Linked DNA regions of Homo sapiens: all the other regions are linked to region 1. Evidence: fine-mapped expression QTL. A gene starts in region 1. Each other region holds a variant in brackets. All regions are shown on one strand. Distances are from middle to middle. Region 1 holds the start of ACSM1 (acyl-CoA synthetase medium chain family member 1). Region 2 overlaps ACSM1 (acyl-CoA synthetase medium chain family member 1). Region 3 holds the start of LOC107984831 (a long non-coding RNA gene). Region 4 overlaps ACSM1 (acyl-CoA synthetase medium chain family member 1).

Region 1 (8,111 bases):
CCCCATCATAAAATAGGCAAAGGATATGAACAGATAGTTCTCAATAGGAGATATTTATTCAGCCAACAAACATTTGAAAAAAAGCTCATCATCCCTGGTCATTAGAGAAATGCAAATCAAAATCACAATGAGATACCATCTCACGTCAGTCAGAATGGTGATTATTAAAAAGTCAGGAAACATTTGGGAGGCCAAGATGGGCAGATCACGAGGTCAGGAGTTTGAGACCAGCCTGGCTAACATGGTGAAACCCCATCTCTACTAAAGATACAAAAAATTAGCCGGGCATGGTGGCACATGCCTGTAATCCCAGCTATTCAGAAGGCTGAGGCCGGAGAATGGCTTGAACCTGGGAGGTGGAGGTTGCAGTGAGTCACGATTGCACCATTGCACTCCAGCCTGGGCAACAGGGCAAGACTCTGTCTTATAAAAAAAGAAAAGTCAGGAAACAACAGATGCTGGCAAAGCTGTGGAGAAATGGGAGCACTTCTACACTGTTGGTGGGAGTGTAAATTAGTTCAGTTATTGTGGAAGACAGTGTGGGGATTTCTCAAGGACCTAGAACCAGAAATACTATTTGACCCAGCAATCCCATTACTGGGTATATACCTAAAGGATTAGAAATCATTCTACTATAAAGATACATGCACATGTATGTTTATTGCAGCACTATTTACAGTAGCAAAGACTTGGAACCAACCAGAATGCCCATCCATGCTAGACTGGATGAAGAAAAAGTGGCACATATACACCATGGAATACTATGCAGCCATAAAAAAGAATGAGTTCATGTCCTTTGCAGGGACATGGATGAAGCTGGAAGCCATCATTGTCAGCAAACTAACACAGGAACAGAAAACCAAACACTGCATGTTCTCACTGATAAGTGGGAGTTAAACAATGATAACACATGGACACAGGGAGGGGAACATCACACACCAGTGCCTGTCAAGGGGTGAGGAGGAAAGGGAGGGAGAGCATTAGGATAAACACTTAATGCACATGGGGCTTAAAACCTAGATGACGGATTGATAGGTGCGGCAAACCACCATGGCACATGTATACCTGTGTAACAAATCTGCATGTTCTGCACATGCATCCCAGAATTTAAAGTAAAAATTTTTTTAAAAAGATTCCAGTTTGGTCTATCTGGCTCTGAAGTTTCTTTTTAAAAATTTGTAACAGCCACCCTTTGAAAAGCACTTGCTGTATGGTAGACATTGTCAAGTGTCTTCCGAACATTATTTCAAATCACTCCTTCCACAGTATACAAGTCCATGCAATACTGGATCTGAGATGAGTGGGGAAGTCATTGGTCAATTTATACGGCATGGTTGAACAAAAATAAAACCACACTGGAATTTTCTATTGTCATCAATTCCAGAGTATTGAGAAGCATGGCAGATAGGATAGAGACAGCCTATAAGCAGGAAAAACTAGCTTAAATAAAATCATGATTCAAGTCCTATTCCTGCCTTCTGTAGCCTCCGTGACTTTGTATGTGCTATATAATCTTTTCAGCATTTTTTATATATAAATTATGACCTACCATTTATATTATTGAAGAAGTCAAAGGCTGAGATTCATCCTTGATTCTTTTTATTCACTCCCTATCAAAACCATCAACAAGTCCACCTAAGGTTGTCTTAAAGATCTATCCCATATCCGTCTGCTTACCTCCATCTCCAGTGCCATAACTCTTGTCTGAGCCACCGTCATTACTTGTTTAGTCTATTGCAGTAGCCTCCCGACTGGCATCCCCACATCCATTCTTGCCTCCTTAAAATATCTTCTCCACAGAACTGCCAGAGTGGGCTTTCTAAATGCAAATCTGACCTCTTTTTCTGAATGTTTTACTTTCCTGTATTACTTTATTTCAAAATCAAGTCACCAAGAAAATGAGTTACTTAATAGGATCATGTCTCTTTCCTCCTAAAATCTTCACGAGACTTCCATGCACCCACCCATTGCACTTAGAATAGAATCCAAACTCCTTATTATGTCCATAAAGATCCTTAATGGCATGTCTCCTGCTTGTGTCTCTGACCTCACACTTTATCATACTTCTCACTCAGTAATCTGCCATCCCAGTCCCCCACCTATGCCTTGAAAATGTCAGCCTCAGGCTTTGCACTTGCTGTGGCTTTTGCCTGGAGTTCTTTTTCCCTAGCTGGCTGCTTCTCCTCCTTCAGGTCTCAAAATGTCACCTCTTAAGGGAGAACATCCTTAGCCACCTCCCCACACTCTCTCCATCATATTGCCCTGTTCTGTTTTCTTTTTGGCAGTATCACCATTTGAAATCCTCTTGCTTATTTAATTGACTTTTTGCTTATTGGCTTTTGCCTTTCTATCATAGGCATGTAAACCTCTTGAGAGCACCAACCTTGTCTTACATGTTTAAAGCACGCCTAAATGTTCCTTAAATATCCACTGAATGAATGAATGTATCATAGGTTTTCTATAATAAGCAGACGATAGCAAGTTCAAAAAGCTGAGGTTGGTAGGATATTTAGCTACATGAAGTCACTCAGAGAACAAGGCTGATAGAGACTTTGCCATTTTACGATGTCACTATCTCCATATATGGTTTCCAGGAGCATTGAATCAGGGGAAGAGAGTACAGAAAACTCATACCTGCTCTTAAATAAATGCCCTAGGCCAGAAGTGACTTGTAACACTTCCACATGGAGTTTATTGTTCAGAACTAGAGTTTAATGGCCTCACTTTAGCTTTAAGAGAGGTTGGGAAATGAAAGAGGAGCACACATAGAATGTTTGGAGAGTTTTCCTTTGTCCGCTGTATACCTCTTGTTAAAGATGAGAAAATTGAGGAAAAGAGGGATAAGAAATCTGCTCAATGTCACAGAGCTGGTAACTGGTAAAAGCTAGACTCAAGCCCAGGCTGCCTGGTGCCAGAGCCTGTCTTCTTGTCCATGCCTTCATGTTGCAGTTCCACAGGGGAGAACTACTCAGATGCAGAGAGTGTGTCAAGGGCTTTTCCCCCGTCTCCATTCTTTTCCGAAAAGTGGCTGCTCCTTCTCTTTAGTAACAGAGGTTTTTTGGTTAGTTGTTTTGTTTGTTCGTTTCTTTGTTTTTTGGTACTTTGATGCTTTGGGTGTTTAAGGTTTAGCTTACCATGGCCAGTCAACTAGCCCTGCCTTCTCACCTCTCCAGTGACTGGCCACAGAAAGCTAAATATTAAAAACCCAAACTATCCTAGCTTGCCACACGGTCCTGTCAGGAATGTCCTGGGTGTCTCCAGAAATCTTTAGCCATGACTTTGATCAGAAATAATTTCTTCCCAGCTTCAATGAAAATACTGGAGATCCCTCATTCTCTAACAATGCCCCAAAAATGGCTCCAGTAGAAAAGTCATAGTACAAGCCGCTACCTATGACTACCTTGGTTTATCCAATGCAATATCACTATCAACCCTCCATCTAAATGCCTGGTCCAGGTGCTTTACAGGCTTGGTGTCACATAATCCTTTCAATGATCCCATGCAACAAATCTTATTAACAAATCCTGCTTCATTTTACAAATGTCAAGACCAAGCTTTGAAAGGAAAATGGTTCACCCAAGAGCTTTCTTGTGAGTGCCTGAGGTTGGACTTAATTAAGCTCAAGACTTTGGGATTCCAAAGACCCTGCATTTTACCAGGATACCAAATTGTTCCTCTGAGAATCCCAAGTGAATAAAAAGAGCCAACATCGACTATGCCCAGCACCGTGTGCTACATGCTTTTTATAAATTATTTCATCTAGTTCTAACAAACAAATGAAGAAGCAAAGAAAACACCCTGGGAGGTAGGTATTGTTGTTATCATTCCTATTTTACAAATAAGGTAGGTGTTGGGTGCTGTGGCTCATGCCTGTAATCCCAGCACTTTAGGAGGCTGAGGCGGGCAGATCACCTGAGGTCAAGAGCTCAAGACCACCCTGGCCAACATGATGAAACCCTGTCTCTATTAAAAATACAAAAATTAACTGGGTGTGGTGGCGGGCACCTATAATCCCAGCTACTTGGGAGGCTGAGGCAAGAGACTCAATTAAACCTGGGAGGCGGAGGTTGCAGTGAGCCAAGACCATGCCATTGCATTCCAGCCTGGGTGACAGCATGAGATTCTGTCTCAAAAGCAACCGAAAACCAATTAAGGGAGGTGAGGCCCAGAGCAAGAAGGTCCACAAAGATGACATGGAGGTTAAGTGGCAGACCTAAGGCTCAAACTCAGACCTTTCTGCCTCCAGACCTCCAGAGCCCAGGCTCTTATCCATTAGGCTACACTGACTCTCAGCTGTCATTTAAGGGAGACTATGGTGATGTAGGGCTGGGAAGGGGGAGCAGGTTAGCCACAGAGAACTAGTGAAAATGCACCATTGGATCTAGTTCATTCACACCCCTAGCCATGCCACCGGAATTGGAGGTGACTTCGTATACGTGGTTTGTTTTTCTTTTTTTTTTTTTTTTTGAGACAGAGTCTCTGTCTCCCAGGCTGGAGTGCAGTGGCATGATCTCGGCTCACTGCAAGCTCCGCCTCCCGTGTTCACGCCATTCTCCTGCCTCAGCCTCCCGAGTAGCTGGGACTACAGGCGCCCACCACCACACCCGGCTAATTTTTTGTATTTTTAGTAGAGACGGGGTTTCACCGTGTTAGCCAGGATGGTCTCCATCTCCTGACCTCGTGATCCGCCCGCCTCGGCCTCCCAATGTGCTGGGATTACAGGCGCGAGCCACTGCGCCCGGCCCACATGGTTTGTTTTCTAAGTGATTATCTCTCCGTGGAGGCCTGTAATTGTTTCTGTCCTATTTTACCTGAGCATCTCCTCCCCCTACTGAATTACCCAATTCCTAACAAGTTCTCTGTTCAAGGTCCCCCTTCGCTGTGGCCAGAAGCCAAGTTCTGCTGGGTGCACAATCCTGCGGATCACCTGATCAGAGAGAACTGAACCTACAAAAGAGAGCTCAACCTCCTTTTCCATACCTACCAGGGACCTAGTTCAGCTACGTCCTAAACAGTACCAGGTAAGACAGAGGTGAAGGTCAGCTTCTATCTGTGTGTGTGTGTGTGTGTGTGTGTGTGTGTGTGTGTGTGTGTGTGTGTAATCCAATTTTAAGTTCTGGCAATGCTACTTTTAAGTTGAGTGACCTTGGGCAAGTCACTTAACTTCTTGGCACTTCATTTTAGAGGCAAAATGACAATGGTGATATTGGGTGAGAGGAATAAATAGGAACGTACATGTAATATGTTTAGCACAGTGGCTGGCATGTAAATGGGGACTGGTTTAGTGTCAGGCAGCTCTGAATGTGGTGAGCCGTGGGAGACAGGCACAAAGTCAGAGATGAATGTTTGAAGGAAATCTTTTCTATCTATGCAGAAGTTGGCTCACTTTCTATAAAGTGAATGCCTTCTAAAAAAAATTATCCAAGCATAGTAATACATGCCTGTGGTCCCAGGTACTTGAAAGGCTGAGGCAGGAGGATGACTGTAGCCCAGGAGATTGAGGCTGCAGTGAGCTATGATCACACCACTGCACTCCAGTCCAGGTGACAGTTTCAAAAAAAATGGTTAACATCTAATGGGGAGGGGGTTGGCTTCAGAATTTGCTGGGAGTTAAAAGGTACCTCAACATTTATTGAGTCCTTACCGTGCACTTCATTCAGTGCCAGCAAGTAAATTATCACACTAATCCTTATGGGGAGCTGGGAAGAAGGTATTACTACTGTGCGCTTAAGTTCAGAGACATGAACAGCACCAAAGACCCAGCTGCTAGACAACAGAGACAAACATCTAGCCCTGGCTCTGTAACTCTGGGATACCCTATAACACAGTAAGTATGTTGCTTCATTAAATAGCTTTATCAGTCCCAAGTCCTGTGAAGTCAAAGCTTAGTTGCAGGAGCTGTTCAAGGCACTATGTATCTGGGAATACAGTGGGGAGCCCAGCTGCCTCTCAAAGCTACCATGTCAAATTGCTTTCAGAATGCACTTTAAGCAGTTCAGAAAATTGTTCTTTAAAATGATTTCATAGGATGTGCTTTAATGATATGCTCTAACAGGGTAGGAACTCTTTCAGTTTAATTAATCTCCAATAGTATCTAAAACTGTACATGGTACATCTATAGTAAATACTTGAGAAAGAAAAAATACATTTTTCTATAACTCAGATAATTTGTGGGCACACTGGCTTTTCTCTTTCTGACTTTCATCACTCAGTTTTCTGAATTATGACAAAGAAGGGAAGAATCTAACTTTTTGTTGAGCACTTACTATGTCCAGCACGGTGAGAAATAGACAAACTAAGCTTTGTGAAGTCAAATCTGAAGACAGATGTGGATGGAAATAGATATCGAAACAGAGACAGAGACGGAGATAGAGATAGAGACAGAGATAGTGATAGAGATAGAGACATGCATCACTTAACAACCAAGATACGTCTGAGAAATGCATTGTTAGGTGATTTTGTTATTATGGGAACTCATAGAGTGTACTTACACAAACCCACAAAGCATAGTCTTCTACACATATAGGCGATATGCTATAGCCCATTGCTTCTAGGCTACAAACCTATGTAGCTTGTTGCTGTATTAAATACTGTAGGCAGTCATGACACGATGGTAAGTACTTGTGTATTGAAACATAGAAAAGGTACAGTAGAAATATGTCATTATAATTGTATGGGCCACTCTGTATATGTGATCCATCACTGACAATGACATCATATTGTGGCACATGACTACAGTGTACATGTGTTATTGTTATAGACATTAATATTAATGTATAGATATACACAGATAGTGATATAGGTATAAATGTAAATATTGGTATATAGATACAGAAATAGATTTAGAAATGAAGCTTAACATACATACAGAGATAGAGATAGACGCAGACATAGACATATAGATATCTGATTTTCAGTCCTCAACACTTGGAGATCAGGTTCTTATATATCTAGATAGATAGATAGATAGATAGATGATAGATAGATAGAAAATAGGTAATAGGTAGATAGATAGACGATAGATACATAATAGATAGGTAATAGATAGATAAATAGATGATAGATAGATAATAGATAGGTAATAGATAGATAGATAGATAGACAGATAATCAGTGAAAAAGCTGGACATATACCAGTCCTATGGTGTCTATGTTCAGGTATTCATCCCCATTCCTTCTCTTTAGACCTTAACTCCAAAAGTTAAGGAAATTTTTTTCCTCTGGCTTAACTACTCTATAAGAGCTTCCCTATAAAGTGTGTTAACTAGCAACAGCTCTTATTTCTAAAATACTTGTCCGTGCTGAATGCTTTTTGCAGGATATCGTGCATTTATCACCATGGCTTCAGGCAATAGGTGCTGCCAATATGCCTATGTTTTTATAGGGAGGTTAAATAAATTGCCCCAAGTTATGTGGGTGGGAAATGAAAGTGCTGGAATTTGAGCCCGTGTTGTTTGATCTCTAGGGCCATGCTGTTTCAGCTACCACAGTTCTCCACAGCTGGGCACTGTGTTTGGCCCTCTCATGTGACGAAGATTAAATTAGAATCACAAACACATTTGTGAGATGATGCCAAAGTCATTTCTTCTTTATTTGATCAAGAGGAGTACATTGGTTTGCTAGGGCTGCCATGAAAATTACTAATGACTGAGTGGTTTAAACAACAGAAATTGATTTTCTCAAAGTTCTGAAGGCTGGAGGTCCAAGATCAGGGTGGTTTTCTCTGAGGTCTTTTTCCTTGGCTATCTTCATATTCACATGGTCTCCCTCTGTGTGTGTCTGTGTCCTAATCTCCTCTTTTTATAAGGACACCAGTCATATTGGATTAGGGCCCACCCTAATAACTCATTTTAACTTAATTACATTTTTAAAGACCCAATCTCCAAATACAGTGGTGTTCTGAAATATTGGGGTTCGTACTTCACCACATACATTCATGGGGGACACAGTTCAAACCATGATAACTGGTTAATGGATTCCCTCACTATATCTCTCCCTTTTGTTTTGGTCTTTAGTCACTTAGTAAGGGGTTGTTTGGACTGTCTTCAGGAAAAATGGTGAGTTTGTATTTTAAGGAAGACCCTGAGGTCATATAGACACCTGCATAGAAAA
Region 2 (8,111 bases), 35 kb after region 1:
GATAGGTGTGAGATGGTATCTCACTGTGGTTTTAATTTGCATTTCTCTGATTAATGACATTGAGCATTTTTTCATATGTTTGTTGGATGCTTGCATGTCTTCTTTTGAGAAGTGTCTGTTTATGTACTTTGCCCATTTTTTAATTGGATTATTTGGGTTTTACTTGTTGATTTGTGTTCTTTGTAGATTCTGATATTAGTTCTAATTAGACATCACATATAAGAGTCTACAAATAACTTAAATTCTTTGTAGAATCTGGATATTTGATTCTGGATGTTGTCAGATGCATAGTTTGAAAATATTTTCTCCCACTCTGTAAGCTGTTTACTCTCTTGATAATTTCTTTTGCTGTGCTGAAGCTCTTTAGTTTAATTGGGTCCCACTTGTTAATTTTTGGTTTTGATGCAATTGGTTTTGGGGACTTAGCCATAAATTCTTTGCCATAGCTAATATCCAGAAGAGTATTTCCTAGATTTTCTTCTAGGATATTTACAGTGTAATGTTTTATATTTAAATCCTTACTCCATCTTGAGTTAATTTTTGTATATGGCGAAAGGTAGGAGCCCAGGTTTATTCTGCTACATATGGCTAGCCAGTTTTCCCAGCACCATTTATGGAATAGGAAGTCCTTTCTCCATTGCTTATTTTTGTTCACTTTGTTGAAGACCATATGGCTATAGCTGTGACTTCTCTATTGTGTTTCACTGGTGTATTTGTCTGTTTTTGTACCAGTACCATGCTGTTTTGGTTACTGTAGCCTTATGACATAGTTTGAAGTTGGGCAACGTGATGCCTCTAGCTTTGTTCTTTTCAGTATTCAAGCCCTTTTTGGTACTATATGAGTTTTAAAGTCGTTTTTTCTGATTCTGTGAAAAATGACATTGGTATTTTAATAGGCATAGCATTGAATCTATAAATTGCTTTAGGCAATATGGTCATGTTAACAATATTGATTCTTCCAATATATGAGCATGGAATCTTTTTCCATTTATTTGTGTCATCTCTGATTTCTTTCAGCAGTGTTTTGTAGTTTTCTTTGTAGCCATCTTTCACCTCCTTGGTTAGATGTATTCTTAGGTATTTCATTTTTAGTGGTAGTTGTAAATCAGATTGTGTTCTTGATTTGACTGTCAGCTAGAACATTGTTGGTGTATGGAAATGCTAATTTTTGTACACTGATTTTATATCCTGGAACTTTACTGAAGTTGTTTATCCGTTCCAGGAACCCTTTGGTAGAGTTTTTAGGGTTTTTTAATGTATATAATCATATATTGTCAGCAAAAAGAGATAGTTTGACTTTTTTTCTATTTGAATATCTTTTATTTCTTTCTCTTGCTTGATTGCTTTGGGTAGGACTTCCAATTCTATGTTGAATAGGAGTGGTGAGAGTGGGCATCCTACACTTTTTCCAATTCGCATGGGAAATGGTTCCAGCTTTTGCCTGGTCAGTGTGATGCTGGCTGTGGGCTTGTCATAGATGGCTATTATTTAGAGGTATGTTCTTTCAATGCCTCATTTCTTGAGGGGCTTTATCATGAAGAGAGATTGGATTTTTTGAAAGCTTTTTCTGCACCTACTAAGAGGATCATATGGCTTTTCTTTTTTATTCTGTTTAAGAGGTGAATCCTGTTTATTGATCTGCATATGTTGACCCAACCTTGCATCCCAGGAATAAAGCCTACTTGATCATGGTGAATTAACTTTTTGATGTGCTGCAGGACTCAGTTTACTAGTATTTTGTTGAGAATTTTTGCATCTACGTTTATCAGGGATATTGGCCTGGAGTTTTCTTTTGTCATTGTATCTCTGCCATATTTTGGTGCCAAAAGCATTCTGGCTTCATAGAATGGTTAGAAAGGAGTCCCTTCTCCTTAATCTTTTGGATTAGTTACAGAGGGATTGGTACCAGTTCTTTGTATATCTGTTAGAATTCAGCTGTGATTCTATCTTGTCCAGGGCTTTTTGGGATTAGTAATTACTGATTCAATTTCAGAACTTGTAATTTGTCTGTTCAGGTTTTCACTTTCTTTCTGGTTCAATGTTGAGAGGCTGTGTGTTCCCAAGAATTTATCCATTTCCTGTAGATTTTCTAATTCAGGTGCATCAGTGTGTTCATAATAGTCTCTGAGAATCTTTTATATTTCTGTGGGACCATTTATAGTGTCATCTATGTCATTTCCGATTGGGCTTATTTTGATCTTCTCATTTTTTTCTTTGTTAATCTAGCTAGCAGTCTATCAATATTGTTTATTCTTTTGAAAAACAAGCTCTCAGTTTCATTGATATTTTGTATAAACTTTTGCATCTTAATTTCATTCAGTTCTTTAATTTTAATTATTTATTTTCTTCTGATAGCTTTGGTGTTTGTTGGTTGTTCTTTTTTTTCCTAGTTCCTCTAGAAGTGATATTAGATTCTTAATTAGCGATCTTTCTAACTTCTTAATGAAGGCATTTAGTGCTATAAACTTTCCTCTAACATTGCTTCAGGTGCATCTCAACGATTTTGGTAGATGGTATCTCTATTTTCATTTTCATTAATTTCAGAAACTTTTTTGACTTCTTGTTCACCCAAGAGTTATTCAGGAGAAAATTGTTTAATTTCCATGTTTTTATATGGTTTTCAGTGATCTTGTTGACATTGATTTCTGTTTTTCTTGCACTGTGGTCTAACAATGTACTTTGGTAAGATTTTGATTTTTTGAATTTATTGAGACTTGCTTTATGACTGAACCTGTGGTCAATTTTAGAATATGTTCCACGTGGGAACAAGAAGAATGTATATTCTGTGGTTGTTAGGTAAATTATTCTGTGGATGTCTATTAGGTCCAATTGGTCAAATGTTGAGTTTAAGTCCATAATTTCTTTGTTAGTTTTCTGTCTCAATCATGTGTCTAACATTTTCAGTGTGTTGTTGAAGTCCCCCACTATTTTTGTTTGGCAAAATCTTTTTATAGGTCAAGAAGAACTCACCTTATAAATCTAGGTGTTCCAACATTTGGTGTGCATATATTCAGGACGGTTAAGTCTTCTTGTCGAACTGAACCATTTATCATTATATAATGCCCTCCTTTGTCCTTCCTAATCATTGCTGGTTTAAAGTCTGTTTTTATCTGATATAAGAATAAGGACTCCTGCTCTTTTCTGTTTTTCATTTGTGTGGCAGATATTTCTCCATTTCTTTGCTTAGAGCCTGTGGGCATCATTACTTGTGAGATGGGTCTCATGAAGACAGAAGACAGTTGGGTATTTTCTTTGTATCCATCTTCCCACTCTGCCTTTTAAAGGGGGCATTTAGACCAAAAATAAATAAATAAATAAATAAATAAATACTATTCAATTTAGTAAAACAAAACATTCCTTCTATTTCCTCTCTACCCACCCCTGTCAACTTAGTCCTTGCCAAATCTGTTGCAAGAGTCTGCTGATCTCCGTTCCACACCCCTACTGAAAGCTGCAAAGCACCAGGAGTAGTCATAGATTACAACTTACATGATAATAGCCAGAGCCCACATTTGATGAACACCTACTAAGTGCCAATTTCTGGGAAAGGCCTTAGACACCTATGATGTCTAATTCTTACCTACTAAGCAGAGCTCCCTTGGCTGCCAGTAACAGAAGCCTACTTCAACGTAGCTTAGTGGAAAAAGAAATACACGGAAGGGGGAACTAGAATAGCTCATTATTCTGTAGGAGAAGAGCAATATGAGCTTGATAAAGATCTAAAACAGAAAGTAGAAAGATACCAGCAATTAAGGCAGCTTCAGTGTCTCCTCTGCTTTTCTCTATAGATGTGCTTCCTTGTTTCTGTTTGTAGAAACACTTTTGCTACTTCACATGCACATAGTCAAACATAGCAATCACAGCATTTCAGGGCGACATTCCCCCTTCCCAGATAACCAGTCCAGGTCAACTAGAGGCTGAGTGAGTGGTCCAGAATGTTGGGGTGATCAGACCCAACACAAGGCCGTGGAGGCTACAAAGTCCGGCGGAGTCAAAGGAATCAGAAAAGACAAGTTAAGAGTGCATAAGGTGGGTCCAGGGGACCAACACTGGTATGGAGGCTGTGAAGACCCCAAGCTCTGGGAGCCCACACTATTTATTGGTGATCAAACAAAGAAGCAGGTGGTGAGGACATGCGGATGTGGGGGTAAAGAGGTGAGGATGGGAGGACATGGGGGTAGAAAAGTAGCAGTGCATCAAGCATAACTGTGACGGTTTAGCATTTTCTTTGATGCATATGTAATATGCTCTGCTACCTGAGATAATGGAGAACATATTTATGAGCCTGGGAGAGTAGCCAACAAGTCTGTGCACATTCCAGAGGCCACAAGGGGTTTTATGCCCTGGGCTTAGATTATGGTGCGGCAGGGCAGCCTTCCACCCTTTGGCACAGAGATTGGTGTCCCAAAGGCCACAAGGGGGTTTAGGCCCTGGACCCAGGACATGTTCCAAGACTCTTTTACATCATGACAGAGAAGCCAGTCCTGCCTCAGCTCTTCTACCAACACAGCCTAAGGCAATTGTCTGTCACCAAGTCAGCAATCCAACTCACTGTGCCTGGGGTGAGGTTACTGACACAGACATTGCTGGAGTGGGCCTGAGACTTTCACAGACATGTAAAGACACCTGTTGGGGTAGGGGCAGTGGGCCAGGGGTGAGAGTAGGACAAAAATTTTAAAAGC[A/G]TATATAAATGTGAGATATTAAAGAGATAGAGGCTAGAGATTGAAAGCTGATTGGGTCTTTATGAAGGGAGGGACTGGAAGTAGAGCTAGATTTGTCCACAAATGACAATTATATTTCATCATGATTCTAAATGGAATATATGGACGTTCCCATTTTACAGATAAGGAAATTGAATTACAGACAAATTAAGTAACAGGATTTAAATTAAGATACCCAAACCCACTTTCTCTTCTCTTTACTGTTCTTCACTCTCTTAGTGTATCTCCACCCTGATCTGAAACTCGGAAAGAAAACACATCCAGCCAATTAATCATGAGTACCAAACATTTTAGAGTCTAAATAACCTGGCTCCAACTTACCTTATCTTCCTAAATTTAATTCTTGCTCCTCTCTAGTGGGTCTAAATAAATCATATTATTTGACTTGACTGAAATGTTTCTTTAGCTCCTGAGACCCTATTTCTTGTTATTTCATCTATCTCCAAGAGACTCCCACTCTCCCTGCCTGTAGACACCATATCTATTTGCTAATGTCCTGACTAAATACCACCTCTTCCATCAAGCCCCTGGGACACACAACTAGAAAGAGTATTTCCCTCTCCTGTGTTCCTACAGAACTTTTGTACTTCAAGTATTTCTTATGACATCTACCCACTTCTGCCTTATCATTCGAGTCCTGTTTTATCCTATTAGTGGCTACTCACCATAGGAGTTGGAACGTTATCTGCGTTTTTGTATTTCCCCAACAGTACCTGATGCATACCATGTATGAAATCCATGCTCAGTATGTGTGTATTTAAAGGATTAAGAAATTAACAAATGGGCTCTTCTAGTGGGAAGGTCAGAACTAGACTGCTAATAATTGGCTGTTAGTTTAACCTTAACTGTAAAAATAAAATTTCTTCTCTCTTCCCTTTCCAGACATTGTTGAAATACCCCATTAACCACTTTTGGGGGGTATCATCTATATATCGAATGATTCTGCAGCAGGATTTCACCAGGTATGGTAGAAGTGGCTTGTAACAACATCTTTGGGTAAGATTTTAAGGAATCTGATACATCATGGTCTGTTTTTCTTCTGGTTCTTTGAGGAGTGTGTGTGTGTTTGTGTGTTAAGTGTTGGTGGCGATGATGATCAAAAGTTAATTAGTTAAAGCAAATCCAGAGATCCAAAGGAAACTCAGTGAGCCTTGCATGATTGTGGGTTGATTCCTTTTTAAACATTTCAGTTGTAAAATAACAATTGTACAGAAAATGCATAAGACAGAAATTTACAGATTAATAAATTATTGAAATTAAAATATCTGTGTAACCCACTCACCAAGTCAAAAAAACATAACATTGCCAGTACCTCAGAGACTTCCATCTCCCTTAAAGGAAACAACTATCTTGACCTTTATGTTGTTAATTCCTTACTTGCCTTTATAATTTACCTCCTAAGGAACTATCCCTAACCAAAATTTTATTTTACATGTGTTCGAATTTTAAACAGGTAATGCTACATTATTATATAATAATTGTGTTTCTAAGATGTGTCCCTGTTGTTGCATATTGCTGTAGTTTATCTTAATTGTGTGCAGCATCCTATTTTATGAAAATACCACAATTTCTTATACCAGTCCTACCATTAATGGACATTTCTGTAGTTTTCGCTTTGAGGCTATTGATGTTTAATGCTACATAGAATCCTAGGACATGCACCCTGGTGTGTACAAGCATGCATTTCTGTAGAGTTTTTCAAGGAGAGGAATTGCGGGTCACACTGATACAACACAATACCATACTATCTTCCAAACCAATTTATGCTTCTTTATATAAGCAGGGCAGGAGAATTTCCATTGTTCCATGTTCCTGCCAACATTTGGTATTGTCAGACTTATTAATTTTTGCCAGGCTGGTGGGTGTGTGGTGTTATCTTAATACAACTTTATTTTTGCATCTTCCTATGTTTGAGAATTAATTTTAAGCTAAACCAAAACACACTCTTTGAAACTTATGGATATTTATGTATCTTTTAGGGACTCTGAAATTGAAATGGCTAGTTCAAAAATCAGAGCTAATATGTTTTAGACATAAAAGTTAAAATATCAGAGTTTAATGATTGCCCTTACAGAGCTAACTCTGAATTATAATTTGATTTTACTCATGAAGCTTCAGTCTGGCTGTATTCTGTTTCCATCTGTATTTCAAAGCTCATATGACAGCCAAGTTTTGGAACATTCCTCACATGATGGCCTTGGTCCAAACTTGGCACACATCTTATCATGGCATAACTAATGATTCCATCTGAGACTCTGCCCACTTTATGTACTTTGGTTTAGCTTCAAAAGAATGAGGAAGAGATCCTCAGTGAACACAACCCTCCTATCCTCACTCTTGACCCTGTCTGTATCAGGAGAGGGTAGTGAGGTGGAAAAGTGGTCTAGATGGTGCCACTTTCCTCATCACCAAGAGCTGGCTGGGCTGAGCCTCATGCTAGATGCATCCAGCTGGCTTTCAAACTTCCATCACTTTTCTCCATTTTCTTCAGGGAATCTAATTATTATTTTGTGATTGTTTTTGTATTCTTTGGGAAAATTTCATGGGAAAAAGGGACAAGAGACTTTATATCACATGCTGTACATAGGAAACTACTACTGTTGATGAAAAAAGTGAAACTCTGGAAAATATTTTTAGAGATTTATTCTGAGCTAAATATGAGTGACCATGACCCATGACACAGCCCTCAGGAGGTCCTGAGAACATGTGCCCAAGGTGGTCAGGATGCATCTTGGTTTTATATATTTTAGGGAGGCGTGAGACATCAATCAAATACATTTAAGAAACACATTGGTTTGGTTCAGAAAGGCAGGACAATGCAAAGCGGGGTCTTTCAGGTTATAGGTAAATTTAAACATTTTGTCATTGATGATTAGTTTATCTGAAGACCTGGGATCAAAGGAAATGTTCAGGTTAAGAGAAAGGATTGTGGAAACCAAGTTTTATTGTGCAGAGGAAACTCTCAGATAGCAGACTTCAGAGAGAAAGGTTGTAAAATGTGTCTTATCGGACTTAAAAGGGGTGCCTGGTTCTTAGTTGATTATCTCCTGGATATGGAAAGGAAGGAAGGAAAATGAAGGGGAAAGTGGATTCTCTATAGAATGTGGACTTTTCCCACAAGAGACTTTGCAGGGCAATTTCAAGATATGGCGGAGAAACATGTTTTGGGGTACAATATTTTGATTTTCTTCCTTGTCTCGTAATGTTATGCCAGAGTCAGATTGGAAAGTTAAGTCACAATATACAGGGTTAAATAAAACCCATCTGATGAGAATTTATGGTTTGTAAGGTATGACTCCCCAGGCACCTTAGATAGGAATTTGGGCAAGATTGTAAAAATCAGAGCTCAGTCCTCAGTCCCCGCTCTTGGCCAAAAAGCATTCCATAGAA
Region 3 (8,111 bases), 92 kb after region 1:
TCTCCAAGCCTCCCCAGCCAGTCTCTCAAACAGCCTCCCAACCAGCTTCCTGGCCTGCCTTTTGGTCAGCCTCCCATGCCGCCATCCTCTGGACCAGCCTCTCAGCCAGCCTCTGTACCAGATTGCCAGCCGGCCTCTTGGCAAGCCTTTCAGCCACCCCCTTGTCCAGCCTCTCAGCCAGCCAACTTACCAGTCAGCATCTCAGCAAGCCTCTAATCCAGCCATCCTCTCAGCCTGCCTCTAAGCCAGCCTTTCAACCAGTCAACCTCTGAGGCAGCCAGCCTCTCATACAGCCTCTCAGGCAGCCTCTTGTCTGGCTCTTAATCCAGACAGCCTCTCAGCCAGTCTCTCTGAGAGGTCTGAGTGCCGGCCTCTCAGACTTCCTCTGGACCAGCCTCCTAGCTGCCCCCTTGGCCAGCCTCTCATCCAGCCAGCCTGCCAGCTCTTATTGAAGGGCTGCAGGGTGTCTTGTCTGCACATGGCTTCCATTACCATTGAAGGAACATTTACTAGGAGAATAGCAATTGTTTAGAAGATCAGTTTTACTAGCCTTTAAAATAAGCGCAATAGCACATTAAAAAATCCAAGAAATCAACACTTAAAAAATTTGTGTTTCTGGACTCAGAATTAACATAATAACAAACAATCAGATTTAAGGGGAAAGAACTATTATCACAAATTAATAACTCATCCAATGCCTATTAGTTAAGCAACTACTATATGCTCAAAATTGTTTTACATGATCTTTGCCCTCATGGATAAAGAGAACAAAGGTAAAAAAAAAAAAATACTTTTGACCAAAAGCTCTGTTGGCATCCTACTAAACAAATGCAAACCTATTTAATTTTCATAATGTAAATGGCAGCTATTTTTATAATTCTTCTGCTAATAAATTATTTTTTTCTGATTTTTTTGGTAAAACCCAATATTCATAATGAAGTCCAGAACCATGAATTGTTTAAAATGATTTCTTCTTATTTATGATTACAAGTATACCTCTACAGGAAGTCAGTATACTCATACCAAAGCTAGTATTCCAGAAGAAAATGGCAAATTTAATAATTCCCAGGAACACAACAACAATGTTAAGCATCCAAGGAATTCAAAAAAAGTCAGGCCCAGGATGAAGATGGCCAGGCAGAAAATTGATGACCTGGAATAATAGCAGTTGAAATAATGAGAAGGGTCAATGACATTTACAATATTTCAGTCACAAAGAATTATCCTTAGAAACCCTCAACCTCCTCCAAGAAGTAAGTGCACCCTCAGATATCACCAGGGGATTCCACCGTTTCAAGAAAGATTGGAAATTACCAGTCCCATGTTTCTCGCATGGCTGGTAGTCTTCTTAGGCTTTGTGAATGTGGTGTGTCTTTTTTCTTGGTCTAAAGCAGGGATGTCCAATCTTTTGGCTTCCTTGGGCTATATTAGAAGATGGAGAATTTTCTTCAACTTGGGCCACACATAAAATACACTAACACTATCAATAGCTGATGAGCTATAAGAAACACACAAAAAACTCATAATGTTTTAAGAAAGTTTACACATTCATTTTGGGTTGCATTCAAAGCTGTCCTGGGCTGCATGTGGCCTGTCAGCTGTGGGTTAGACAAGCTAGGTATAAGGTAATTACCTTTTCTTTAAAGTTATTTACTTTTATTTACTTATTTACTTATATTTACTTATGTTTTAAATTGAATATGACATTGTATCTATTTGTCATGTACCATATGATGAAAGAATCCCTCTGAATCATACTTCTTTCTTAGAGTACATGAATTTTTGCTATTTAAAGATCAGCATAAGTAAAAAAAATACAATAAAGAGATGATTTCATTCAGAAATAAGTATCAAATTTTAGTGCTTAAACATAACCAATGTAGAGGTCATAAAAATGGCATGAATAGTATGGGGTTTCTCTAAGATTCTTGATATTAATTCCATTAGACTCTTACGTGAATTAAGACAAAGATTTCACCTGAGTAACTTCCAACACCTTCTGATAACATTCCTACATTGATTCCTTGGATTTAACTGTATATTCTTGAAAACATCTTAATTTTAAATGTTTCAAGATGGCGAATTAAACAGAGATAGCCATTCAACAGGTTAAACTCAGAATATGCTGAGTCCAAAATGGAAAGGATTGAATTAGAGATCTGTGCAACAATGGGAATGATTTCAGAAACATTGTGTTGAGCAGAATAAGGCAGACACAAAAGAGTACCTATGGCATGGCATGCATCTATATATGTGAAATTCCAGACTAAGCAAAATTAACCTACTATGAGAAAGGGATTGGCTAGGAAGAGGGAGAGTTCACTTTCTGTGGTGACATAATAGTGTAGATCTTGAAAAGGAGGTGGGTTATGCTGGTGTAGGTACTTTTCAAAGTTAGTAAACTCACACTTAAGATTTGCATATTTTCTTCTATGTCACTCTTCTTTAGAAGAAAATTTTATAAAGAAATATTGAATTCTAGTTAATGTTAGTCTTGCCAAACTATTCAGCAGGAAGTATGTTGATGCCTCCAATTCAGTTGGAAATACATGTAAAATAAGATGGGCTGAGGGATGGGTAGAGGAATGGAAAGATGGGTAGATATGTGTTGTCATGTTCATTAAAATGTTAACAAATCAATGTTGTATGTATGAGCATTTTTATAACAAAATGTTGATGGTAATTGCCAAAAGTCACTTGTCTCATGTCAGTGAGTTTTCCTTTGAACAGGAGTTCGAAAATAATTATTATTCATGTTCTATATGTTGGAACAATTTGAGACACTCTATCAATTGGATCTTTTCCCTGTCAATTGGCCATGTAGTTGCAAAAATGCAAGGATACACAGGGAAATCTTGCAGAGGTGCTGCTTTCTGGGTTTTGTTGTTTTCAGGACAAAGACCAAATGGGAAGAACAAGTCGCATATCTCTTTCCAAGGGAGAGGATTGGCAAACTATTGGCAATGGTACTAGAACATTGTAAATTGCACAGGTGGCTCACATTCTATTTCTTTTGGACGGTGCTGCCCCAGAGCTGTCTTCAGCTTTGCAAGGTCAGTTCAGGATTGGCCAAAGGCTTTTTGAGGGATTGCCTTTGAAGTATTGAGCCTGGAGAAGTGGGCTCTGAGTTCTGACCTCAGACCCAGAGACCCACAAGTCAGTGAGAGGTCAAAAGGACGGACCTCGGGGTCAGAGGAGAGAAATGACCATCACACAGCAGAACTGAGACTTTCTGCTCAGAAATGTGGAGAGTTTGTTCTACAAGTCAGTAGGGACCACAGTCACCATCAGCACTGACCACAGGTTTCTCCTAACCTCTGTGTTGTCCCCAAAGCCCAGAATTTATGACAATGCTCTCTTTCCTCTCTTTGGTGACAGACAGGAGGCGACCGCATGAGACCATGGCTGAGACACCTAGTCCTCCAGGCACTGAGGAACTCCAGGGCATTCTGTGGGTCTTGTGGGCAGCCAGCACCTCTACCTGTTCCTCAGAAGATCGTGGCCACCTGGGAAGCCATCAGCCTGGGAAGGCAGCCGGTGCCTGAATACTTCAACTTTGCCCATGATGTGCTGGATGTGTGGAGTCGGCTGGAAGAGATGAAGCCTGTTCTGTCCTAGAGTCCATCTGGGGCATCTGAGGCTGCCCTCATGTACCACAATGAGACTCAAGGCTCCAAGACATGTTGATGAGGAAATTTGGACCTGGGAATTTTGCTAGTTCTAAAATGTAAACTGTTGGCATTTGACACTTAGGAAAAAAATTCTGAGTCAGTGTTGTGAGCCTTAGACATGCTTGTTCCTTCTCTGAAGTGTCCTGC[G/A]TTCTTGAGCCCAAATCACACAGTGAGACAGTTATGTCCCTTCCGATTCCCTTCCAGTTGTTCATCAACTGAAGGAGGAAGTTTTGTTTTGCTGCTACTCTATCTTTGATGTCTCTCTCTCACTGTCATGCCCTTCTCTTCTAAATAAGGAAAGAAGGCCGGGCGCGGTGGCTCATGCCCATAATCCCAGCACTTTGGGACACCGAGAAGGGCAGATCACCTGAGGTCAGGAGTTCGAGACCAGCCTCGCCAACATGGTGAAACTCCATCTCTACTAAAAATACAAAAAAAAAAAAAAAAAAAAATTACCCAGGCATGGTGGTGCACACCTGTAGTCCCAGCTACTTTGGAGGCTGAAGCATGAGAATTGCTTGAACTCAGGAGGCAGAGGTTGCAGTGAGCCAAGATCATGCCACTGCACTCCAGCCTAGACAACAGAGTGAGACTCCACCTCAAAAAATAAAATAAAATACAACAAAACAATATAAAATAAGGAAAGAATAGGGCTCAGGCTCAAAGCTTTTTGCAGATCATAACAGATACATAGAATTGAATAAGATAACCCTGATTTCTTTGTGTGTCTCTGTGCATCTGCTTTCTTCTTTATTTTCTCTTATATCTGTGTCTGTTGGGTCTCTCTATTTCATGGTTACCTTTTATTTGTGTTACATGATACTAACTTTTCATTTATAAGAGGAAGACATACTTGTAAAACTGTATTTCAACCAATGTGAAGCTTAACCAATGAGAAAAGCCTTTTCCCTAGGGGCTTTTTGTCCAAAACAATTACAGACAAATGTTTAACTTCATTGTTGCCTAAGGTGATGGATAACAGTAGGGACAAACAATAGACTCACCAAAAAGTGAAAAAAGAAAAGCTGGAGAATACAAAACTGGAAACATAAAATTTAATTCAAAGAATTGTATTCATGTTAATTATAAGAAGAGATTGTTTAAAGAAAAAGTATGAAGTAAATGGCGTTGTTAGTAGATACAATAAAATTAACTGTCAGCAGATGTGGTGAAACTTATGAAGGTGGTATGAGGATGACTGAGACTTAAAAGCAGGATTTGCAGTCAGATAGACATTGTTCATCCATGTACATGAAGTGTGACCTTGGACAAGTGCCCTAAGTTCTTTAGATCTCAACTTTCTCATCTGTAAAATGGTAGTCAGACCATATGCTACTTAGAGTAATAGTGAGAATTAAATGAGAATTGCATGTAAGAGATGAAGCCAGGATGCTCCATTACTGATGGCCTACAAAAATCGAAGTTCTTTTTGCAATACTAGGGGCATCCTTAGAAGACTTCTCCTAATGATAAAAACAAGCAAGCAGGATTAGGTCAGGAAAAAAAATGGTAGAATAAGGACTGTCCAGCTATGTGGTAGCCTTGAAAAATAACAGCCCCCATTTCTGGTGCATCACAGCAACCATTAGATGGGCCAGAATGGAGTTGGAGTTTTTTCAAAGCTTCACTTATGAAGAACTGTTATTATTTGAGCTGCCCATTGGTCCTTTGGAAGACCCTACTTGTAAAACTGTATTTGAATCAACTTGAAGCTCAACCAATGAGAAAAGCCTTTTCCCTGGGGGTTTTTGTCCAAAACAATTACAGACAAATGTTTTAGCTTCATTGTTGCCTAAGGTGATGGATAACAGTGGGACAAACAATAGATTCACCAAAGAGTGAAAAAAGAAAAGCTGGAGAATCCAATGTCTATGGGAGCTTTAAAAAATTCTATTGTATTCCTGGAAATCTAGAAATCAACACACGTAAGTAAGGCTGTGTGCTTTCCCAGGGCATTGCACATGCTTAGGAAAGATCTGAGGAAACTCTAGGCTCCCACTTCTGGCAGACTGAGAGTTGGAGCATGCAGGAAATTAAGACTAAGGCAGGATTGTTAATTGCCTGGCTGAGTGCTAAAGGTGTGCCCCAACACCCACCCAAAGACTGGGAGATTTATTGGTTTCAGGCATTTAAAGAAATTTCTGTCTAATCATAAGATGACTACTAAGTGATGCTGAGTGAGTAAGTGATCACGCACTTATTCAGAAGGCTAGGGTTTTTAGGCTGTTATTATTATTATTGTTACCTCTTCCAGCTCATGCATTCCAACCCTCCCCAGCCCCTTCCTGCCTTCATCTCTTACCTCTATACCCAAAGTCTTCCCTACTATCCACTCAACATCCCCTTCTGTTTTATGCCAGGGACTGTGATGATTCCAGGTGTCACTCAGCTGACGCAGAAGGACCTCAAGTACCGGCTGCACGCGTCCAGGGCCAAGTCCATTATCACCAGTGACTCCCTAGCTCCAAGGGTGGACACCATCAGCGCCGAATGCCCCTCCCTCAAGACCAAGCTGCTGGTGTCAGACAGCAGTCGGCCAGGCTGGTTGAACTTCAGGGAACTCCTCCGGTGAATTGGGGCTCTCCAGGAGAACAGCAGAAAAATGAAGTCATTTCCCCTTTAAGCAACAAGAGATGAAATGCATTGCTGATTCCACACATAGAGAGCGAATCAGAGAGGAACACTCCCATTGGCAGCCAGGCTGACTTGAGCATAATCCTGGTCCCTACCTTAATGTTCAAGGTCCCTCATTCAGTCAGTGCTGGATTTGTCAGCAGCTTTTCTGTGCTTCATTTGCTTCTATAATGCGGTGGTAGTTATTAGAGCTACCATTCAGAGTACATGAAATAACCAATATGGTGCATTTAGCACATAGCAGGTGGTCAGTTAATAATAAACTAGTGGCCATGTATTGGGTACTTAGTGTATCGCTAGATACTGTGCTATGTAAGCCTTCACCTTCATTCATTCATGCAGCGAAGATTTAATGAACATCTATTTCACGACAAGCATTGTGTTTGGTGTTCAGAACACCATAATGGATCAAACATCATCTTATTTAATCCCTGAAAAGGACATTGTGATGGGCCCTTTAACTCAGTTTTACAGATGAGGAAACTGAGACTTGGAAAACTAAAGTGACTTGCCCAAGGTGCTAAAAAGTAGTCAAGTCAGGAGTGGGCAGAGCCGAAAGCATATTTGCCTTGGAGCAAGGGCCTGGTGGAAACCCATCTCAGAATTTGAGACTTTGTCCTGATTGGAAGCCAGAACCCAAAAGGAGCCTCTCAGGGGCCTGAACCATTGAGTCATGCATGCTCACCCCACAGACCAGCTGCATCAGATTCACCTGGGTGCTGTTTTGAATACAGATGACAAGGCCTCATATCTGACCTACTTAACCAGACATAGCTGAGCAAGAGCCCTGGGGATCTTTTTTAAAAAATCAGCCCATAGGGCCAGGCGCCATGGCTCACGCCTGTAATCCCAGCACTTTTGGAGGCTGAGGCAGGCAGATCACCCGAGGTCAGGAGTTTGAGACCAGCCTGACCAACATGGAGAAACCCCGTCTCTACTAAAAATACAAAATTAGCTGGATGTAGTGGCACATGCCTATAATCCCAGCTATTTGGGAGGCCGAGGCAGGAGAATCACTTGAACCCGGGAGGCAGAGGTTGCAGTGAACCAAGATCACGCCATTGCACTCCAGCCTGGGCAACAAGAGCGAAACACCATCTCAAAAGAAAAAAAAAAATCAGCTCATATGATTTTGAGAGCTGTCAGGTGGGCCTAGATCAGTGGTTCTCAATTTTGGCTGTTACTAGAATTACTGAGAAGCATTTAAGAAAACATCAAAGATTCTGATTTTATTTTGTTCAGGGTGGATACAGACAAGTTTCTTCCAAAAATTTACCAGGGGACTTCACAGTGCAGCCAGGGATGAGAGCCCGTGGATTAGCTGATCATCCAGATCACAGAACTTTGGGAATTACCTAGATCTCAAAACCCCATATTGGGGGAAACCTTTAGAAAAGAGTTCTAAATTATTAGAAATTGGGATGGGGGTGGAAGCTGTGCCTAAATGTGCAGAATTATAGACATGGACGTGTGTGTGTTCTACCAGAAAGTCCTCATACCTTGGTAAGAAAGCATGGGCTCTTTTGAGTGAGTTATGTAACCATTTTGAGCCTCAGTCTCCTGGTCTGCAAAAGGGTTATAATGATAGTACCTGCCCCTTGAGGTGGTTGCAGATTACCCAAGCCAGAGCTTTCAGCACAGCACCTCGCATGTGGTATTTATGAAACGGTAGTCATATTGTTGTTATACATATTATTGGTGCTACTAACTGTTTTTACCGTGGTAGTGCCACCTAGTGTTTTTACGTTTTACAGGGAGGCATCTACAGAGCACAACTGCGTGAGGACAAAGTGTCAAGACCCACTG
Region 4 (8,111 bases), 23 kb after region 1:
CCAGGTAGTATGTACACAGTGTGGGCATCCTTCTAGAGATTTCTCCCCTTCTAGTATAGGCAGAAATGGTAACAACATTAGTGTATGTAATAGAAACATGCTTACACTACACATAGGAATGGCAAACCTTCCTCTGGGCATGGACATTTGCAGCATTTGCAGTAATAATGTAACAACAGAACAATTATAACTAGGCTTATAAATTTTATCTACATTTACTTATCTAGAGATGGTCCTCTTAGCTTCGGCTGTGTGTAGACTAGTCAGCTTCCAGGATGTGACTAGAGCAGAGCTTGCAAGATCTTCAAGCTTCAGCCATGTGTAGACTGACCAGCCTCCAGTGTGGTCAGAGCAGGGCAGTTGTCCTTCTTACTGGTGGTTGGGATTCGCCGTAGGTCTATTCGGGTGGGGCAATCAGGGTCTTGTTGGTTAATCCACTGGTCATAGTCGGGAGTCACTGCTGCTGCTAGTTTCAGCCAGCTATGGTGAATCCAAGGTGTGACACCTGCAACTTTAACAGCAGTAGAAGTAGACATGATTACAATATGAGGCCTATCCTGTATGGGTCCTAGAGTGGTTGGATTCCATTTTTTAACTTAAAGAAAATCCTTAGGTTTGAAAGGGTGTACTGGGTCTGTTAGACTTATAGGCATTTTTCTATACCTAGCCATGCATTTTTGCATGGCCATACTTAAAGTCTGCATTTGCCTTCTTAAAGTTACTTCTTCTAGTCTACAGATGATGGGGGGTGGCCGGCTGAACAAAATCTCAGAGGGGGAATACCCAGTTTGCTTGGTGGAGGTGCACCTGACTTGGAGGAGGACCATGGGCAAGACCTGATCCTACCTTTGATGAGTTTCTTGACACAATTTCTTCAGCAGTTGTTTTAGTGTCTGGTTCATGCTCTTCGCTTTACCTGAGCTCTGCAGTCTGTAGGCTATATGTTATTTCCATTTTATTTTTAATAGTCAAGTTAAGTCCTGAACTATTTCAGCCACAAATGTTGGTCCATTGTGAGATCTTAGAGTTAGAGGCAGTCCAAATCTGGGAATAATGTCTTTTAACAACACTTTGGTCACCTCTAGTTCCTTCTCTGTCCCGGTGAGGAAGGCCTTGACTTATCCTGAAAAGGTGAACACCAACATGTACTGATAGCCCCCATCACAGGGTAATTCGGTGAAGTTCATAAGCAGTTTTTCACATGGCATGGCTTCTGTTTCCTGAACTCCTGGGGGTGGAGTAAGCCCTTGTCATGGATTGTTCTGAACACAAGTTAAATATTGTTCATTTACAAATGGCTTGAGTAATAGCAGTGAGCCATGGCACATAGAAATGATGCCTTAATAATGTCTTTAGTGCTGTTTTTTTGTGTGTTTTTTTTTCAGGTCAGTTCCTTGGTGGAACTGTTTTACAAATCTGGGGGCCACCGTTTCAGGGATGGCTAGCCTCCCACTGGAAAATTTTTACTATCCTTCTTCAATGTAGTTGATATTTTTCTGGGCAAAACAAGCCCTTTCATTTGGAGTGTAGCTTGGGATCTACAGAAGGGGAATCTCTGGGAGGAGAGGCATAGCTAAGGCTTCTTCTTTAGAAGGTGGGGTTGTCCTGCTTTGCCTCTTTGTCTCATTTATTTATTTATTTATTTATTTATTTATTTTAGCCTTTAGTATTCTTCCTTTATGGTGCCCCTTGCAGTGCATCTCTGCCACATCTTTTAAGGCCTATACAGCATTTAAGAGCTGTAGAATTTCTTCCTTGTACTTTATTTCTTTACTTTCAGCAGTTAAAAGCCTTTTTTTTCTTTGTAAATAGCCTCATGAACATGGAAAGTGTCAGAAGCATATTTGGAATCTGTGTAAATATTTGTCTTTTGGTCTTTTGCTAGCCAGAGAGCTCTTGTCAGAGCTATTAGCTCTGCTTTCTAAGCAGAAGTTTCTGTAGGCAAAGACTGCACCTCTACTACTGAGTCCAAAGTCACCACTGCATACCCAGCTCAGCAGATTCCCTTTCGTATGAAACTGCTTCCATCAGTAAAATATTCTATGTCTGGCTCCCCAAGGGGCCTATCTGTCAAATCTCTCTGGCTTGAGAACACTTCATCTATCACATTTACACAGCAATGAAGGGGGTCTCCTGGTACTGACTTGATGAGGAGCAAGGTAGCCGGGTTTAGGGTATTCACAGTCTCTAAAGTTAGTTTGTTAGCTTATTGAGCCAGTAGGGCAGTGGCAGCTATTGCTTTAAAACAAGGAGGCCAGTGAAGTGCCACAGAATCTAATTGCCTGGATAAGTATGTCACTGGGTGATGCCATGACCTTATGGCTTGAGTTAGAACCTTCATGGCCTCCCTTTCACTTATGGGCATACAAGAAGATAAGCTTAGTTAGTTAGATCTGGCAGTCCTAAAGCTGGGGCCTGAGTCAAGGCTTTTTTTTTTTTTTTAATTTCTTTAAAAGTCTTCTCCTGGTTAGCCTCCTAGAGGAGGGGCTCTTTCTTTCCTTCTCTTTGTGGCTTAGCCATAAGCTAGAAATTTGGGATCTAAATGCAGCAGAACCTTGCTGCCCTTAGGAACTCTCTTATTTGACACCAGGTGGTTGGAGTAGGAAGTGCACAAACAGATTGCTTTTGTTTACTACTAAGCCATCTTTCCTCTTGGCTTATATAAAGGCTTAAATACTGGAGACTTTTAGAGCAGATTTGAGCTTTTTTCTGACACTTTATGTCCTGCCTTTCACAGCAGGTGCAGGGAGTCTTGGGTTTCTCCTGGGTGCAGTAGCCCTTGGCTGGAGGGTTTTTTTTTATACCATGGCCTTGACCATTCTCCTTATTTTATTTATTTATTTTTTGGGGCATTTATTCTTCTAGTGTCATTTCCTTTTGCACCGTGCACATTAATCTCTCTCTAGCCTTGGCCAGCTTTCAAACTCCTGTCCAAACCAGCCTTTTCCATGACTGTGTTCACGCCCACGACCATGCCTCCTTGCAAAGCCAGCTTCTCTTCCCATAAGGGCTGCTGCTAGTAAATTAGCCTTTGTTAAGCCTCTGATCAGCTTTCTTCTCTGCCTCCTGAACTCAGTTAATGTACACCTTGTAACCACTTTAATAAGCTGAGTTGCATTCACACCTACGGAGCTTCTAACTTCTGCAATTTGTGCCTGATATCTCCTTGGGCCTGCCTTACAAATGCTGTGTCCACCATGCACTGATTTTCAGCAGCCTTAGGGTTAAACAGAGTGTACAACCAAAATGCCTCAAAAAGTCTTTCTTAAAACTGGCTGGTGCTTTTATCTGCACCCTGGAGCACCTCTGAGATTTTTTATATTGGTTGCCTTTTTCTTTTACCAGCCTTTAGCCTTTGCAGAAGGGCTTCTTGGCACTTTTGTAGGTGCTGAAGCTGGACTGCATCATCTGGGTCCTAGTGGGT[G/A]TCCTCTTGTCCTCTTAAGAGGCATAAGCATAACTTGGGCGTGACCAGACCTGAGACACCCTCCCTGACTTTTCCAGCCTTTCACTTTAACTTCCTGGAGCTCTAATTTCTCCTTCTCAGGTGAGACTGGGAGCCTGTATCTCTTTGAACTTAATTCCTTAGGGGCAGTTAGCCTTGGTAAAGGGAGGTAGATTGGAATGTAGGGAGGAGGGGTCTCTATTCCCTCCTGTGGTTCTTGCAAAACTGGTTTTCTCTTTCCTGAGACTTTTCTTTTGTCTCCGTAGTTGCCAGGGCAGCTGATTTTTACTTTTACTTTTGGCTTTCACTTTTCACTTTTGGTGCTACAAGCCTCTGTGACTTTACCTTTAACTCCGTAGCCGCCAGCGCAGCTGGTTTCTCTGGGTGTGAGCTGTGAACGTTCTACAATAAACTGCTAGGCAGGGCTGCATTCATTTAGCCATGAATCAATATAAAGACTAGGTCTGAATGCCCTGGCTGTCTTCCAGGGCTAGTCACTACCTTAAAACACACAGCCAATTTACCTATAGTGCCATTGGTCAGCCATCCATCACTAAAAGAGGGCTATTCTAATTCACAGTATGTCCTTAACTTTTGAACATCCAGTTTCATCCCATAATCAGCTCTAAATCCTTTTTAAAAATTCTTTATCATGCACTCCAAAAGGAGTTGGTTTCCATGCTTTTCCTCCCATTTCCTCCCTTGAGGTGCACTTTCACTCTAAGGTCCACCAGACTGGGTCCTATTACAGGAGTTTCAGACGCTGCTTAGCCAGGAACGTGCCTTTCCCTGCCACAGACTGCTGCAGCTGTGAAGCTCAACCTATCAGCCATATGCAACATCCTAGGACTGATTTCCCCCACACTCGCCTGGGAGCACACAGCCTGCGCTAAGGGATCTGTGCCTCCCCACATTACTCCCCGCATTGGCCTCTCCTGAGACCGTCTCTTTCACACACTTTCACACACCTCCCTTGCCTCAGGACTCCTCATCGGACAAAACAACCCTCTCTCGTGTCCCGGGTGAGCCTAGTTAGATTCCCACATTCACACACATACACACACCACTTCTACCCCAGGACTCTTCATCAGAGGAAACGAACCTCTCTGGTGTCCTGGGTAGGTCCGCACACACCCACACACTCCCAGTTGGGGTGGCAAGCCACTCTTACCATTCTGCCAGCAAACTCTTCCTTGCTGCACTTGCCGCTGTATCGGCCCATTTTCTCCACCAGTGAACCACTTTCACTTTGTTAGGGGGACACGAGGTTCATCCAAATTGGCGGGCCACTCCTGCCACCCCCAGCCACTCTGGGTTGGATGAGTGGTTGGTCCCTGGGAGGTGATCAAGCTCACCTTCATCCCTATGGGATGGGCTTTCCTACCTTGGGCCCTTTCTCCTTACCGCGGTTCCTGAAGTGCTGGTGTCATCCTGCAGCCCCATCTCAGGTTCAGTTGCACTGCTGGGCAGGATGCGGGGAGAGCCAGTCTCCATCCGGGTGAAACTCCCCCATGGCATGCCTTGGATGCCAGGTCTTCCACAGCCCCAGGGCCCTAGTCCCATGGGCAAAGGAGACAGTAAATCTGTTATCTCCAATCCCCATATGGGCCACCAGAAATGTTTGGGGATGATTTAGGAATCAGAGAGACCGATGGGGTTGAGGAGGATATATGTATTATTTAGGTGCACCAGCCAACCCAGTCAGATTAATATCCAAAGGACTGAGCCCAGAACAAAGAGTCAGGTTACCTTTTAAGCATTTTGGGGGTGGAGAGGGGGGAGGGAGAGATCTGTTCAGGGGGAAGCATATTACAGAAGTGAGAAACAAAGACAGTTATTCAATTGAGACATGCATTACATCATTTCTTACTTTTCAAGGAAAAACATGTTTTGCAACTTGGGTTTATCTGTCTAGTGACCTTGCAGCTGCACAGCTAGAGAAACAGGGTCTTCACAATGCCTGGGAAAGGGAGAGATAAGGCTCACTAGCCACAGACAGAGAAACAGGCAGTTAATTTTTAAAGGACTCCACCTCTTTCTCTTCCTCTGGGGCAACTGGGTTTTCTTACATACAACTGAGTTTTTGCTTACACATTCTTTAATTTCTTTTAATTCCTGTTCCACAGGTAGAAGAATGCCATTCACTCCCAAGTGGTGAGAGACAAGCAGCCAGTGGTAGGAAGGTCATCAAGTCAGTTGTCAGAAACCTCACTTATGTCACTGTTTTGCTATGTGACCCTGACCTAGTTCCTTGCCCTCTCTTGATCTCAGTTGCTTTATCTGTAAAATTTCACATTTTTCAGCAAGTCAACCTTCCATGTTCCTCTCATTAAAATATACTCACCCCTGGGACTGTGCAAAGGAGATTTGTAAAGTCAGGGGGTTATTGTGTTACATATTCCTTGTAGGTGGGAAACCTAAAGTCTTATTTTTCTATTAAAAATATATGAAGTAGTTGAATGAAAGGTTAAAATGAATTTTTAAGGTAAAACTTAAGACCCCAAGAAAAATGGAATTGCCAACTATGGCTTATAGGTAGCTTTGGGAGCAAACTCTTTCCATCTCCCAGGGACTGGGTGCCTTCAGAGACACCTGGGGGCAAAGTGAAGGAAGGCTGGAGATAAGAAAGGCCCCTTCTGCCTCCAAAACTCTGATTCTGTAAGCCTTCAGTCATGTCTCACATTATACACACAAACCATGCTGGGTTTGTTTTCTTGGAGTAATACTTGAGTTTTTAAAGCTCTTTATTTCAACCCCAAAAGGCAAACATTACAGCAAAGTCACATCTTATGCTGTAGTCTAATGTCAGAGAATTTAATTAAAACAGAGTACTCTTGAAAAATCCCTCGAATTTCCCAAAGTCAGTATGATACCATTTCACAGCAAGACCAGCAGACCTAGTGTTTCCTCTCGTGTTGGGATTATTTGCAGTTGCTTTGAACACCATAGAAGCCTTGCATTTACAATTGTAGTAGGCCCAAGGCCCTCTCAGTCCAGGGGAAGCTCCTGAGAAACAAGAGAGACTGAGGGAACCACAGATCTTATCTGCCATCTCAAGCTCATGCTAGGGCAGAGGTACATTGATCGCAGTAATTTTATATATAATATATATATAATATGCAAATTTATATATAAGTATAATTTATATATAAGTATATATATCATATAATTATATGTATATATGACATGTAAGTGTATATAATATATGACATATAAGTATATATTTTATATATTTATGTATAATTTTATATATAAATTTTATATATGAGATATAATATATAAATGTTTTTATATATTTATATGTAATATGTTTTATATATATTTATATTTATTATATATTATATATATTTATATTTATATATTATATATTACATATATTATATATTTATATTTTTATATATTATATAATATATATTATATATTATACATATTTTGTACATAATTTATATATAAGCATAATTTATATATAAGCATAAATATTATATATAACTTACATATACTTACATATACATGTATATGTATATATATACTTATATATAAATTATATACAATATATACTATATGATATATATTATATATACTTATATATAAATTATATATCCTATAATTATATTTATATATGACATGTAAGTATATATTATATATGACATAAAAGTATATATTTTATATATTTATATATAATTTTATATATAAATTTAATATATGATATATAATATATAAATATGTTTTTTATATATATATATATATATATATATTTTTTTTTTTTTTTTTTTTTTTTGAGATGGAGTTTTGCTCTGTCACCCAGGCTGGAGTGTAGTGGTTTGATCTCGGCTCACTGCAAGCTCAGCCTCCCAGGTTCACAACTAATCTCCTGGCTCAGCCTCCCGAGTAGCTGGGAGTATAAGCGCCCACCAGCATGCCCAACTAAATATATTTTTTTTACTCTCCCCCTTTCTCTCTTTCTCTTCCCCACCCCTCATCACCAAGGTCACAGAGTTTAATTTTAAAAAACAAGCTTAGCAGTCTGGTTAAGGGCACAGACTAGGATGCCGACTGAGTTTGAATCCTGGCTCTGCCATTTGCTAGCTGTATATTACCAAGCAAATTACCTAACCTCTCTGAGTCTCAGTTTCCTTACCTGCAAAATGGGCATGATTAGAGTAGTACTCATCTCCTAGGGTTGCTCTGAGTACTGAATGGTTCATATTTGTAACTCATTGAGAGCATTGCCTGGAACATAGCAAGTGCTATTCAAATGTTCATTAGATTACTTAATGAATTCATTAAATTACTTAAGATTCATTACTTAAATTACTTAAGATTAAATGACTTAAGATTCATTGTATTTTACTAATTTTTCAAATAAAAAAATGCTGGTCCACATGTCCGAATCACCCATCAAGTCAGTGTGATGCCTAACTCCGGGAGAGCCAGTTTTCCTCTAGTGTTGCAAACTCCCAGTTTCCTGTCCGTGCCTTATGTTTCTTTTGCATTCCCAGAAGATGAAGAAACAGCAATCATGACTTTTTTCCTTTTGTCTTGAACCCCTTTGCAGATCAGCATCCCCAGAACACACCTGTGTTAAGTCAAAGACCTTGGACCCAATGGTCATCTTCTTCACCAGTGGGACCACAGGCTTCCCCAAGATGGCAAAACACTCCCATGGGTT

What was found. PIP is the estimated chance that this variant, and not a neighbour inherited with it, causes the effect.
Region 2: its variant is fine-mapped to the expression of ACSM1 in whole blood (TOPMed, PIP above 0.99). The same link has a PIP of 0.9 or more in aorta, esophagus mucosa, lung and monocytes.
Region 3: its variant is fine-mapped to the expression of ACSM1 in blood mononuclear cells (TOPMed, PIP above 0.99). The same link has a PIP of 0.9 or more in T cells, esophagus muscle, gastroesophageal junction, lung, pancreas and transverse colon.
Region 4: its variant is fine-mapped to the expression of ACSM1 in whole blood (TOPMed, PIP 0.98).

What each region holds. Positions count from the first base shown.
Region 1 is chr16:20,694,546-20,702,656 of GRCh38, reverse strand. It overlaps ACSM1 (acyl-CoA synthetase medium chain family member 1), which reads left to right and starts at 4,977. Exons shown (of 14, transcript NM_001318890.3): 1 at 4,977-5,021. It also overlaps a transcript of ACSM3 not described here and the pseudogene LOC124903661.
Region 2 is chr16:20,659,366-20,667,476 of GRCh38, reverse strand. It overlaps ACSM1 (acyl-CoA synthetase medium chain family member 1), which reads left to right. Exons shown (of 14, transcript NM_001318890.3): 7 at 5,604-5,683. Among named protein-coding and RNA genes, the nearest start is that of ACSM1, 34 kb to the left of the region's middle. The variant A/G (reference allele first, on the strand shown) is at 4,683.
Region 3 is chr16:20,602,390-20,610,500 of GRCh38, reverse strand. It overlaps LOC107984831 (a long non-coding RNA gene), which reads right to left and starts at 323. Exons shown (of 3, transcript XR_001752102.1): 1 at 191-323. It also overlaps the pseudogene ACSM5P1. RefSeq lists an enhancer at 5,459-6,658. The variant G/A (reference allele first, on the strand shown) is at 3,819.
Region 4 is chr16:20,671,558-20,679,668 of GRCh38, reverse strand. ACSM1 (acyl-CoA synthetase medium chain family member 1) reads left to right here. Exons shown (of 14, transcript NM_001318890.3): 5 at 7,998-8,111. It also overlaps a transcript of ACSM3 not described here. Among named protein-coding and RNA genes, the nearest start is that of ACSM1, 22 kb to the left of the region's middle. The variant G/A (reference allele first, on the strand shown) is at 3,425.